Regions from separate parts of the Homo sapiens genome. Here region 2 is linked to region 1. Evidence: fine-mapped expression QTL. A gene starts in region 1. The other region holds a variant in brackets. All regions are shown on one strand. Distances are from middle to middle. Region 1 holds the start of C6orf62 (chromosome 6 open reading frame 62). Region 2 overlaps LINC02828 (long intergenic non-protein coding RNA 2828).

Region 1 (2,915 bases):
TAATAAGAGTTAAACAGTAGGGGGAAACCTGGAAAACTTCCAGATACTTAATAGATACCACACTAAGATTGTATTTCTGATCTGAAATTAGCTAACAATTTAAGCACCAAAATCCAAGTAGCACTTCCTTACATTCATAACCTCATCTTTGGTCAAATAAGCCTTGCTGATAATTTAAGAAAATGTTCATTTTAAGTTGCAAAAAATACTGCTCTTATCATCCCATCCTTGACTACTCACAACTTACTGTTTGCTATTTAACTGCGGAACTAATTCTGATTAAGACCTCCACCGCCCCTAAAAATGAAACTTCCTCTAGGTCATTTTGAGTTTTTAAAAACTGTACTTCTATACAAGGCAAAATGAACTCTAAGTAAAAAAGAAAATCACACTTCTAAACACAAATTAACCATTTCAGTATTTAATTGCTCCTAAAAGGTGTATTCTACTTCATTAAATGTAAGAGAAAAGGTTACCTACATTACGCAGTTTAAGAAACAGGATAAACTTTAGCATATAAACAGTCTGATTACAATTTCACACTTTCAACCATCTTATTTATACTCTACATTAGATAATCTTTAAATTCCATCATAAGGTTTCCCATGTTAACTCCATATAAAATTTTGTAATCTTGCCCACCCCATGTCAACTCAGTGTATACTACTACTAAGCTTCAGACTCAAATTTATTTCCAAACCAAAGAACGCTCAAGGGTCTTTTCGCATGCTGCAACTGCTCAATTCACAGAATCACCCCTAAGGGTGAAAAAACAGAGCATACAAAGCAGACTTTTTTTCAACCACTCTTTAACCTAATATTCATAATAATTTAAGAGTAACAAATAATATACACTTACAAAAATTACTTGTGCTAATTCACCATTAAGAACTTTAAATTACCTTCTCCTTGAATACAAAGGCAATATACATCTTGAAGTCAAACTGGTCAGCTAGAGATTCTTTTTTCTTTCTAAGCTGAGCACGTAGTCTGTTCAGAGCTTGTTTCTTCCGGGAGTTTGGGTCCCCCATTTTGAAATACAGGTGGTACTAAAGCCTTTGGAAATTGTCACTAAACTATGGGCACTTTTTCTTAAGACTCAAGTACAACAGAAACAAGTCATTTTTTTTCCTGCTAATATGATTGATTAGCGAAAATCACGACTATAACCCAAAAACTGCACCTTCTGTCAATATTAGCAGACTGTCATATTACAGGGTCAAGAAACAAAAGCTGCTGTCCAGTCATGTTTGGACAATAACGTTTGGGGTCAGACGGGAAAAAGGGAGGAAAGAAAGGAAAGAAAGAGGAGAAAATAACTAACTTTCTGGAAAACACATTTGGCTTAACTGCCAAAATAAAGGCTTTGCGGAGAAATGAAAAGCCTATAATCAGGATTTAGGTGTGCAATAAAACACAGCTGACACCAGACCAATCCCTAAAATCCATCCGGATTTTCCCCCCTTTTTAGAAAAGGGATTAAGGAACAGGGAGGGGGAAGTGTGATCCTTGCTTTCCAAAAAAAAAAAAAAAAAAAACTCACCAAAACCAAAACCAAAACCAAACACCAAAACAGGGTAGGTGAATGAAACTGAAATATCCAATTAGATTTTACCCAGCCAGCTCCATGGCTGTAGTACCTAATTCTTAGTTATTTCAGATTTCACTATTGCTATGTATTGTCAGTGCTTGTTATTGATTACACTTGGTGGTGAGCATAGAGAAAAGTGCAAAATCGGTAGAGAAGGAAAGGGAGAGGTACAGGGTTTCCCTGCAATCAACTACAGTGTATACCGGGGGCGGGCAGCTGTGGCCCAAAGGAGCCATGAGAAAAAACAGCGGAGTCATTACCAACTTCCCCATCACCCACATTTTCACCCTCAGGCGGCTGCTAACGCTGCTGCCAAGGAGAATCATGACGGCAGAAGGAAAAGGGGTATATAATACGGTATTAATTATTCCGGCTCTGTGGTTAGACCTGATTAATGCCCGGGTTCCCAACACCCCCAGCCTGCAACTAGTCCTACATTCCCCAAGGGAGACTTCCCTGTGGATCTGCCCCCGTTCAAAATGGTGGGGAGTGCGATTTATCTTCTTGTGAGCATTGCCGAGGCAAAGGTGGCGGGTTCTTCTCCCAAATCCCAGGCGGTGCCCGGAGACCACCTGCCTTCCACCCCCGCAGGTCCCACCCCCACCCCTTGCCTTCAGCGGCAGCGACTCACTCGCACCACGGGAGACACAGGATCACTCAGGTTTTCACTCATTTCATCGTGGAAACAATTCCCGCCCGGGTGGAGTGGGCGGGAGAGGGTAAATGGGAAGGTTCAGTGGGGGAAAAAAAGAAAATAATTGTGTTAATATTACTTCTAAAGTAAGCCCACCCACCCTCCCCCCAAAAAATTAAGTTCCCGGATTAGCTCTCTCTCACGTTGAACAGACCATGTTTCCAGAGTTTGGATTGTTTAGGGTGGGGTCGTTAGTTGTTTCCCGAGGGGCAGGGGGTGGAATTGAGGCAGCTAGGGCGGGGTGGGTGACGGGGAAATCCCCTCCCTGTCCCCGCGGAGCCCGGGACTCACGGACCGACTCTAGGGCGGGGTTTGGGCCCTCTAGCCGCAGCCTGCGGGCGGAGCGGTGGCGGCGGCGGAAGAGGCGGCGGCGGCGGGGGCGCTGCTGGTAGCACGGGCAGGAGCCATGTCAAGAGAAAACCACCAGCCAACTGAGCCCCTCCATCCCCGCTGCAGTGCGCACCGTGACTGGACCGCCCGCGCTGCTGCCGCCGCTCAGCCCCCACCTGGGACCCATAGTCTGGCTCGGCGCCCTGGGCGGCAACGGAGGGGAAGGACGCGGAGACAGCGGCAACAGGGAGAGAAAAAGAAAAAGAGGAAAAACAAAGAGAAAGATGGGGAGTTGGATTG
Region 2 (2,915 bases), 31 kb after region 1:
ATACAGATCTTTCAAGCAAGCAAAACAGACTAATTAGCTCTGTGAAGCATTATGGCTAGAAATCAATGTGTGTTGTCTGTATTTGACCTGTGAATAGGGTTTCTAATAGTCAACTTTAAATTAGCTGTAGAAATGGGGGAGATAGGACTTTATCATGGATAAATAACATCCTACAACTTCATAATAAAGAAAGACAACAGGCTGGGTGTAGTGGCTCATGCCTGTAATCTCAGCACTTTGGGAGGCCGAGGTGGGCGAATCACGAGGTCAAGAGATGGAGACCACCCTGGCCAACATGGTGAAACCCCGTCTCTACTAAAAATACAAAACTTAGCCGGGCATGGTGGCACGTGCCTGTAATCCCAGCTACTCAGGAGGCTGAGGCAGAAGAATTGCTTGAAGCCGGGAGTTGGAGGTTGCAGTGAGCCAAGATCGCACCACTGCACTCCAGCCTGGCGACAGAACGAGACTCCGTCTCAAAAAAAAAAAAAAAAAAAAAAAAGACAATATTCTGCTTCTTTCTCCATCAAATCTTGTCTCTAGGTCACTAACAAGCAAGATCATTTTTGCCTTTTACCTGCATTCCTTCTTCTGAATAGCCTCTGGGTGTGGTTTTATTAAAACTGCAAAAGCCGGAAGAACTATAACTGGAGGATCAAAATGAAGCAGTTCATGAAGCAGACATCCTCATGGGTTCTCTCACATAAAGAGTTTCTCTCCATCTTCTTACAGATACGTGAAATTCCGGTAATAAGGGACAAAATGGTTAAGCTCTTGATTTGAGACTAAGGATGGAGATGGGGCCATTTAGAATGCCCAGATTCAAGAGGCAAGTAGAAAGGAGAGTTGACGAAGGGTCCCGAGCAGGGACAGCTGGAAAAGCAGGTGAGTCAGAAGTGAACGATGCCCTGGCAGGAGGAACGGATTTCAAGATGGAGCTCAACAGTATGAAATATGCCAAAGAGAGGAGCCTGGCCTCTGTTGAGTTTCCCAGTCGTGAGGCTCCAGATGGTGCCAAGGTGAAGTTGTGTGGATGGCACACCACAGTCCAGTGAGGCCCACTGAGAGGGAGGAAGTAGAAACAGCAGTGTGGACTCTGCTTTGAGAAAGTGGGCTGTGAGAAAGAAAGAGACAGATGGTGGTAGCTGGAGATGAACATAAAGTTAAGAGAACTTCTCTCCTTTTTAAGAAGGCTATGTAAGGTTGCTAG[A/T]AAAAGGAACCCATGTATAGGAAGTCGGAAAACAAAACTAAAAACTCAGGAAGAGGGAGAGGAACTAGAAGAAGCAAGTGTCATAATGACTTTCAAATGGTTCAGTTTTTAAAAAACGATATACAGAGCGTTAAATAAATTTGTCAAGATGATGACAGTTGTTGAATCTAGGCAGAGAGTATACAGGCTTTCATAATAATATTCTTTCCATTTTCATATACATTTGAAAATTTTCAAAACAAAGGGGATGTGACAAATCTGTGGACCAGCCATATATGGTTGAAAATTTTCTTTTAAAAATATTGAGAGGTATCCAAATATAATGTGAACATAAAATTGCAACTGAAAAGTTATGATTAAATGTTCACAGCCATACCTAATCTAATGGACTGCAGATAATATTGTGTTATAGACCTATAAAAATTGTTTCACTTGAATTTTTGTATTGCAGTTTATTTAAACTAAGAAAAAAGGTCATGGCCAGGTGTGGTGGCTCATGCCTGTAATCCTAGCAATTTAGGAGGTCCAGGTAGGCAGATCACTTGAGGTCAGGAGTTCGAGACCAGCCTGGCCAACCCTGTCTCTACTAAAAATACAAAAATTAGCTGGACGTGATGATGCATGCCTGTAATCCCAGCTATTTGGGAGGCTGAGGCATGAGACTCTCTTGAACCCAGGAGGTGGTGGTTGCAGTGAGCTGAGATCGCGCCATGGCACTCCAGCCTGGGTGACAGAGTGAGACTCTGTCTCAAATAAATAAATAAATAAGTCATAATATTTTCACACAATATACACTTAGTTCTTTAAGTGACAATTGTCACAGATAGCAGAAAGACTTAAGGAATGCTGCACTTGTAATCCATACAAAATACCAATGTTTTGGGTGATACATAACGAAATATCACAAACACTTTTCAAAATATCATAGTAGCCAATATATAGGGAATGACTTTGGTGAGCATAGAAGTTTAGAAAAGAAAACAAATCACACTGGAACTATCTGATTTCTTTAAAAATCACTGAACAAGAAAAGGTACATTGAACTTCACATACCGATTTTATATAACTTCTGTACAGTACCTTGACTTAAATCCAAGAGCAAAAGTTAAGACTCTCCTTTAGTTTTGGTAAACAACTACAAGGTAAACTTGGATGACCTTTTCCCCTGGATTTTACTGAAAATAGTCTTTTACATTTTTTATCTAAAAGAGGGCAGGTTTGGCACTTTTATACCGATGTCACCAGTGTTAATGTTTCTTGGACTCTTGGGAGGGTTTATATTCTATACAGCTGATACAGCATGGGCTGCTAGGTTCCTGTAAAGCCAACCTTTGTTTTTTTCAGCTTATTTTGCACATTAATTTGTGTAACAAGCTCATTCTTGTTGGTCTCTGATCTGGTTTGACTCTGTGTCCCCACCCAAATTTCATCTCAAATTGTAATCCCCACAGGTCAAGGGAGGGACCTGTAATCCCCACATGTCAAGGGAAGGAGGTAATTGGATCATGGGGGAGGTTCCCCCAGGCTGTTCTCATGATAGTGAGTGAGTTCTCATGAGATCCGATGGTTTTGTAAGGATCTCTTCCCCCTTCACTCTTAGCTCTCTCCTGCCACCATGTAAGACGTGCCTGCTTCCCCTTCCATCATGATTGTAAGTTTCCCAAGGCCTCCGCAGCCATATGAAACTATGAGTCAATTCAATGTC

The links. PIP is the estimated chance that this variant, and not a neighbour inherited with it, causes the effect.
Region 2: its variant is fine-mapped to the expression of C6orf62 in whole blood (INTERVAL, PIP 0.94).

Annotation. Positions count from the first base shown.
Region 1 is chr6:24,717,638-24,720,552 of GRCh38, forward strand. C6orf62 (chromosome 6 open reading frame 62) reads right to left here and starts at 1,517. Exons shown (of 5, transcript NM_030939.5): 1 at 903-1,517. The coding sequence starts at 1,031. RefSeq lists an enhancer at 2,198-2,915 and a silencer at 2,561-2,730.
Region 2 is chr6:24,748,264-24,751,178 of GRCh38, forward strand. It overlaps LINC02828 (long intergenic non-protein coding RNA 2828), which reads left to right. Exons shown (of 3, transcript NR_183315.1): 2 at 733-885. It also overlaps the pseudogene AP3S1P1. Among named protein-coding and RNA genes, the nearest start is that of LINC02828, 7.4 kb to the left of the region's middle. The variant A/T (reference allele first, on the strand shown) is at 1,211.